Homo sapiens: one gene and its partner. The protein of the gene in region 1 interacts with the protein of each later gene in a pairwise test. Each region holds a gene or a part of one and is shown on either strand. Other genes may lie near its edges.

Region 1 (3,948 bases):
AAGTGTATAAACAAATGAATTGTTGATAACTTAGTTATTGACCTGGAGACTGGTAGCTTATTAAAGAAACTCCGTGTTACTCATTCCTGGAGTTGGGGGTTTCTGTAGGCACTTTATTTCTCCACTTTCAAGAGCTTGGGCTTGGCCCAAATCTTAGACTGTCCAATTCTGCCTCTATTACCAATTTAAATCTATGGCTTGAACCTGTGCACTGAAAATCAAATCCTTTAAAAAGAAAGAGGAGAAGAAGAAGCAAAAAAGAAAGAAAAAACACTTATTAGAAGCCCTAGTCATTTTTTGGCTTTCTGTTTTGTTGCTGTCCATTGAAGACTTTGAACATGCCGCCTTAATAAATGTATTAAAATTGAAAAAAGAGGATAAATTGTGACGAATTTTATTTACGAAGTTAGACTAAAAGAAGAAAAAGAACCCGTTATGAGCCTTGAAAAAAGAGGGGGAGAAAAATAAGCTACTTATAGCAAAGGAGAATTTATTCTACAAAAAATATGCATGACAATGCATCCCAATGTAATACAAAAATAAAAAGAAAGTGAAGATACAATTATATGATCACTTTCTTGCAGGCCTCATACTGCTCTCAGGAATCACATAAAGGGTTGTTGAGTTAGGTTTAAAACAACTAAAACTCCAAAATAATCTGTAAAAGATGGCTCTGTTTGAAACTGGGTCAGGGAATCACTAAACAGAAAATCCTCAACACTTAAAGGAGGGAAGGGGTAGGTCAAGAAGAAAATAAAAAATAAACTCCCAAATAAAAGAAGGCAAAACCACCTGGTCAAAGGAGTTTTTGTTTGGTGATGCTTTGTTTTGCTTTAATGTTTTTAGTAATTCAGATGCTGCAAGTCGATTGTGGTGAGTGTGTCTGTAAAAAAGTCTAAGCTGTCAGCTGAAATATCTACGGGACTGTCGAGGGAACCTGGCAAACTGGGTGAAACTGCATCTGAAAGCTGCAGGCAGGAATCTGTGGAGAAAACGCTAAAGTCCTGCAAAGAGGGGACCTCAAGGGCCTCAGGACTGTCATTGTTTAGGCCAGCTCCACAGTTCTGGCCCATTGTTGACAAGCAGTTGGGAACAGTGGGTGACTGGTGCTGAAAATGTTTCAGATTTTTCTCATTGCTGGTTAAAGGCGAGACTGGGAAACTTTGGGAGTCGCCATTGTGTCCATTGGGAGCCTGCTGCTGAGAGAGGGCATTTTGCTGAAAAGTGTAGCCTTCCCTCTCCAGAAGGGCCCCAGAGACGCTAAGGGCTTGCTCAAAGAGCGTCTTCTCTTCCTCGTCCTCCTCTACTTTCTCGGAGTCCTCAAGGCTTTTACATTTCCCTTCGCTGTTTTGGTTTTCCTTGCACTGGGTCTGCCTCTTGTGCTTCATCCTCCGGTTCTGAAACCACACTTTCACTTGTCTCTCAGTCAAATCCAGCAGCGCTGCAATCTCCACCCTTCGGGGTCTGCAAAGGTACTTGTTGAAATGAAATTCTTTTTCCAGCTCTAGAAGCTGTGTGTTGGTGTAAGCAGTTCTCAGGCGCCGCGATCCCCCGCCGCTGCCATCGGCGATTTCCAGGGATTCTGCGGAAAGGGAAACCAACAAGAGACACACGCACAGTTGGAGGTGGAGGGGTCCGAGCGGGGTTATTCCACTGGAGAATAAATATAGCAGAAAAGATCAACTGCAACAAAATGGCCGCCCCTGGATGCAGTAGAGCTATTGTGCTGCCTTTCCTGGGAGCCCAGCCTGGGCAGACCCCGTCTCCTCCATCTCTATCGAATTCATGCCTGTGGCTCCCCCCAACCTCTTCATCCGGGAGCAAACTTTATATTAGCCACAACACAATTTATAATTAATGCGTCAGCTGCTTAGCTGAGCAAGAGCGATCTATCACTCTTCATTACTGTCAAAAAGCCAAACTCTAGGACAACTAGACAGGAGGAGGTCAGTTCCAACTCAAATAAATCATCCCACATTACACAAGTTCGGGAAAGTTTCCCCCCACTTCCTAAAAATATATATGTCTCATTGTAGAGCGCAGGATCCCCTTTCCTCTCCATCAAACCCACTCCTGAACCCACAGGGGCAGGGACAAGGCAACCAAGCATCTCTCCCTCTCCTCCTTCTCTCCCAGCCCACTCTCCCCTCCCCCCACAGCCACTCTCGGGGCAGCCCGGAGAAGGAAGAGGGTCCCAGAGACCTGGGGCCAAGTCTTTGGACTGACCTTTGTGGCTGAGGCAAGCAGGGCCGGTGGCTGCGGCGGTGGCGGCGGCGGCGGCGGCCGGCAGAAGTGCGGTTTTCTTGGCCGCCTTCTTCTCCTTCATCCAGGGGTACTCGGGCGGCTGCAGGGCGCCGGCGGGCACCGGGCTGCCGCGGCTGCCCGCGGGGCTCGGCTTGGGGCGGCCGCCAGCGCCGTGGCGAGGGTGACTGCCGGGGTTCAGGCTGGGAATGGTCTGCTCAAAAGGAGGAGGAATCAGTGTCGAGTGTGAAAGCGTCGAGGTCTTGATTGATGAACTTTGAAATGTATCAGCGACAGGGGGAAAAGATGTCAGGCACTCAGCGAGCGACGGCTGGCTATTGATAAAACCAATCTCTCGCTCAAATTCGTAATTCATGGCCTTCTCCTTGGAGCCCCCTCAGAGAAAAAGTTCCCTCTTTTGGAGGGGCTTTGGGGGGGCAAGGCCTAGGAAAAAGGCGAGCGCAGAGGAAAAAAAATCTATCATAGAATATCGCTGCTAGGGTGTTTTTTTTCTAATTCACTGATTACAGCCGTATGGGGACCGCGCTACTATTAAACTATTGAATTCATGGAGACAAGGTTGAAATTGGACCGAATTGGCTGTCACATGATTGCTTCTGCCCAATGACAATTTGGGCTTTAATCAAAAGAAGCCACTGTCTGTTTGATTGATCCAAAAAAGTCGGGAAGGAACGCCTCATTGGGGGCCAGCGAGGCTTTATTTACACTTTTTTCAGAGCAAAAATACATATATGTTGGTGTGGGTGGGGATGTCCCGGAGTACGTGGGGGCGAGGGTGCCTGCGTGCCTCCTGATCTGCAAGGATCTATCTAGTGTGTGTGCCTGGGAGTGTGTGTGTGTGTGTGTGAATGTGCGCGAGTGTAAGCCCTGCTGTCGGTCCCGCCGGTGGCTGCCCTCTGCCTCCCCCGCACACTCCGCGCATTGTTTGGGACTGTCGGGAAGACGCCTCGCACCTCACAAATCATTTAAGCACCTCAGTCTGACGCCTGCAGTCATTAACAAAGTAATCCATTAATCTTCAAAGTTTTGACACCCGAGGGCCCTGCGTCCCAGCCACATAAGTTCTGTTAAAGCAGGAGAAAGGAGCAGAGGAAGAGAGGAGATGAGAGAGGGAGAATAAAGAGAGAGGGAAGAAGAGAGAGTTTGAGAGATGGAGAAAGAGAAGACAGAAAAGAGAGAAGAAAGGAAAGATTTTGGTTGGGAAGGGGTCTTCCTTTTCTTTCCCTTTTCCTCCTTCACTTTTCCTAAAAGCAGTTCCTGGATCTCAAAACTGATCTCTCTCGGTCTGTTTTCCTTCCTGTCTGTCCCTTTCCCTCTTTTTCCTCTTCTCCCCCTTTCTCCCTCCCTCTCTCTTCTGTCCGCCTCCCCTTCTCCCCTCAGCCTCTCGCCCCCCTCCCAGTGTCCAGCCCAGAGTCTGCGCCCCGGGCCCATTGTTAGCAGGCTATTCCACGGCAGCTTTGCATCTGGCTCCGGCGGGAAGCGGAAAACGGGAGGCGGCTCTCGAAGCTTCCCGACCTTCCTGCGCCATCAACTTCTCAGGAGTGGCTGGAGAAAGATGCATGTGCCAAGCGAGACAACAACCCCAGGTCCATGTGTCCAAATCCCCGTAGCCAGGGCGGCGGCCAGCCAAAGAAATGCCGCCCCGAGCAGGCGCGTGCGGCTCCTGGCATTCTGGGTTTCATACCC
Region 2 (3,500 bases), on another chromosome or scaffold:
TTTCCACATTCGTGAATGATGGTGTGCATCTTTGAACATGGGTCCTTGCCTGCCTAAGTATTTTTGTAGGTTGATCATTGTAAACTTGGAAAGCACAAAGACAGAAGCCAGGCTTGCTGACTCTTGACTGATGTTGCCCCAGTGATGTCACTCCTGCAAAATGCAAAGCCTGCGTCCTGGCTGTCGGAGCATGTGTGGACATTTGGCAGCTTCTTTCTCTTCCCTCCTGCTCTTCTGTTTGTTTTGATTGGGAAGGATATGGAGTGGGGATGGAGAAGGGTGTTGAGTAATTATCGATGGTTTCTGTATGTTTATTGCTCCTGACTAGCAGTGCTGGGTTTCTTCTCTCAGAGGAAAGCTGAAAGAGATTGCTTTGCTTTTTTCCAGAGTTTTAAAATCAGAGGTGTGTGTCTCGAGTGTATTTTCAGACTTTTTTGTTAGCTTTAATCATGTAAAACATGCAAAAAAAAAAAAAGCATGTGGAAACAATTTTTTTTTTTTGAGACGGGTTCTCGCTCTGTCACACAGGCTGGAGTGCTGTGGGGCGATCTCGGCTCACTGCAACCACCGCCTCCCATGCTCAAGTGATCCTCCCACCTCAGCCTCCTGAGTAGCTGGGACCACAGGTGTGCATCACCACACCTGGCTAATTTTTTTGTGTTTTTGGTAGAGATGGGGTTTCACCATGTTGCCCAGGCTGGTCTCTTATCTGCTGACCTCAGGTGATCTGCCTGCCTCACCCTCCCAAAGTGCTGGGATTACAGGCATGAGCCACCACACCCGGCCGGAAACAAATTTTTGAAGGAGGCATAGATCTCTGTTGTGCAAAATAGATACTTTTTGTACCACTGGGTCCTAGTTTGTCATTGTTCCTTGCATGATCCCATCAGATTTGTCTACAGAGCTGCTGGGGCATGATGGTGTGGTGGCGTATTAAGAACGCAGGTTAGTGGCACACAGATGAAATAAATGCATGTGGGGTGCATTTTTAAGATAGCAGGTGCAAAGTTGTATATACTGAGACCAGGCATTAACACTTGCCTATTACAGTGCCTTTTAAAACACTATGTGAGGGCCGGGTGCAATGGCTCACACCTGTAATCCCAGCACTTTGGGAGGCCTAGGTGGGCAGATCACCTGAGGTCAGGAGATCGAGACCAGCCTGGCCAACGTGGCGAAACCCCGTCTCTCCTAAAAATACAAAAAATTAGCCAGTCGTGGTGGCATGCACCTGTAATCCGAGGTACTAGGGACGCTGAGGTAGGAGAATCGCTTGAAGCTGCGAGGCAGAGGTTGCAGTGAGCTGAGATCACACCACTGCACTCCAGCCTGGGCAACAGAGAAAGAGATTCCGACTCAAAAAAAAAAAAAACAAAAAAAAAAAAAACAAAACTGGACCAAATGAAACAAGTGAATCTGATCTGCAGTCAGTCAGTTTGCAACCCCTGGGAAGCCTTGGACTTGAATGCAAAGATCCCTTGAACTTGGATCTAGTTTGCCTCTGCTGCTCACATGCACATTTAGAGATGGCCAAGGCATACGGTGTTTCTGCTTCCAAGAAACAGAGTGGTTGTCCTGTTTAGCCATCTCTTACAGTCACACAGCTTAAAGAAGATAATGTTTGCAAACAATTTTTGAAATGTCTAGCACACAGCAAACAGAAGGTCAAATTCAGTACTTAATGCTGATAAAATAAGAGAACCCTTGCAAGTCATGTTGCCTGCTTTCTGCCACAGAGAGTACTGCAATAGAACTTTCTGACGTTTTCATGTTGTTTATTTATTTATTTTTTGAGACAGAGTCTTGCTCTTGTGCCCAGGCTGGAGTGCAGTGGTACAATTTCTGCTCACTGCAACCTCTGCCTCTGGGTTCAAGCAATTCTTGGGCCTCAGCCACCCAAGTAGCTGGAATTATAGGTGCGCTCTACCACACCTGGCTAATTTTTGTGTTTCTAGTAGAGACAGGGTTTCACCATGTTGCCCAGGCTGGTCTTGAACCCCTGGGCTCAAGCAATCCACCCACCTCAGCCTCCCAAAGTGCTGGGACTACAGGCGTGCATCGTGACGCCCTGCTGATTTGTGTATTTTTAGTAGAGACGGGGTTCACCTTGTGCTGGTCTCAAACTCCTGGGCTCAAGCAATCTGCCCACCTCAGTCTGCCAAAGTGCTGGGATTACAGGCGTGAGCCATCGTGCCCGGCCTCTCTCTGACATTTTTGAATGGCAAAGGCAAAAATCTTATACTTTTAAGGATGTGGAGAAATAGGAACACTTTTACACTGTTGGTGGGACTGTAAACTAGTTCAACCATTGTAGAAGTCAGTGTGGTGATTCCTCAGGGATCTAGAACTGGAAATACCATTTGACCCAGCCATCGCATTACTGGGTATATACCCAAAGGACTATAAATCATGCTTCTATAAAGACACATGCACACGTATGTTTATTGCGGCATTATTCACAATAGCAAAGACTTGGAACCAACCCAAATGTCCAGCAATGATAGACTGGATTAAGAAAACGTGGCACATATACACCATGGAATACTATGCAGCCATAAAAAATGATGAGTTCATGTCCTTTGTAGGGACATGGATGAAATTGGAAATCATCATTCTCAGTAAACTATTGCAAGAACAAAAAACCAAACACCGCATATTCTCACTCATAGGTGGGAATTGAACAACGAGAACACATGGACACAGGAAGGGGAACATCACACTCTGGGGACTGTTGTGGGGTGGGGGGAGGGGGGAGGGATAGCATTGGGAGATATACCTAATGCTAGATGACGAGTTAGTGGGTGCAGCACACCAGCATGGCACATGTATACATATGTAACTAACCTGCACATTGTGCACATGTACCCTAAAACTTAAAGTATAATAATAATAAAGAAAAAGAAAAAAAAAGATTGCTGTTTTATGATAAAGTGAAGTGCAGCTGTTACTTCTTCCTTCTTTGCTTCCAGCATCTCTCTTCCCTAAGGATTGCTTTTAAAATGTAAGAGTTTTTGGTTGAAATGCTGTTCCTGTGGTTTTTGTCTCTTGGTTGGAGTGAAAGATTTTGCAGGCTGTGATACAAATCCAGTTCTCTGCTTATTTTCTCCTCAGTCCTTGAAATCCAAAACCAGATCCCTCCCATTGGCCCGTTGTAATTAGAACCTGCCCCACAATAGACGCACCTCCTAAAGCATCTCAGATTCATTTCTTTCCTGAGGATTAAGTTTTTAAACCTTCCTGGCCAAGATAACAGTGTTTTAAGAGGCTCTTTTCTTTTATTATTATTATTATTATTATTACTCTTTTCTTTTTTTGAGATGGAGTCTTGCTCTGTCACCCAGGCTGGAGTGCAGTGGCAGGATCTCTGCTCACTGGAACCTCCACCTCCCGGGTTCAAGAGTTTCTTCTGTTTCAGCCTCCTGAGTAGATGGGATTACAGGCATGTGCCACCATGCCCAGCTAATTTTTGTATTTTTAGCAGAGATGGGGTTTTACCATGT

The links.
Region 2: the proteins of HOXA2 (region 1) and NDE1 interact in a two-hybrid assay, tested with the Homo sapiens proteins (one large-scale study listed by BioGRID).

What each region holds. Positions count from the first base shown.
Region 1 is NC_000007.14:27,099,884-27,103,831, forward strand, and holds HOXA2 (homeobox protein Hox-A2), read right to left. Parts: upstream 2,801-3,948; 5' UTR 2,618-2,800; coding exon 2,227-2,617; intron 1,583-2,226; coding exon 843-1,582; 3' UTR 471-842; downstream 1-470. UniProt on the Homo sapiens protein: Sequence-specific transcription factor which is part of a developmental regulatory system that provides cells with specific positional identities on the anterior-posterior axis.
Region 2 is NC_000016.10:15,653,245-15,656,744, forward strand, and holds part of NDE1 (nuclear distribution protein nudE homolog 1), read left to right. Parts: intron 1-3,500. UniProt on the Homo sapiens protein: Required for centrosome duplication and formation and function of the mitotic spindle. Essential for the development of the cerebral cortex.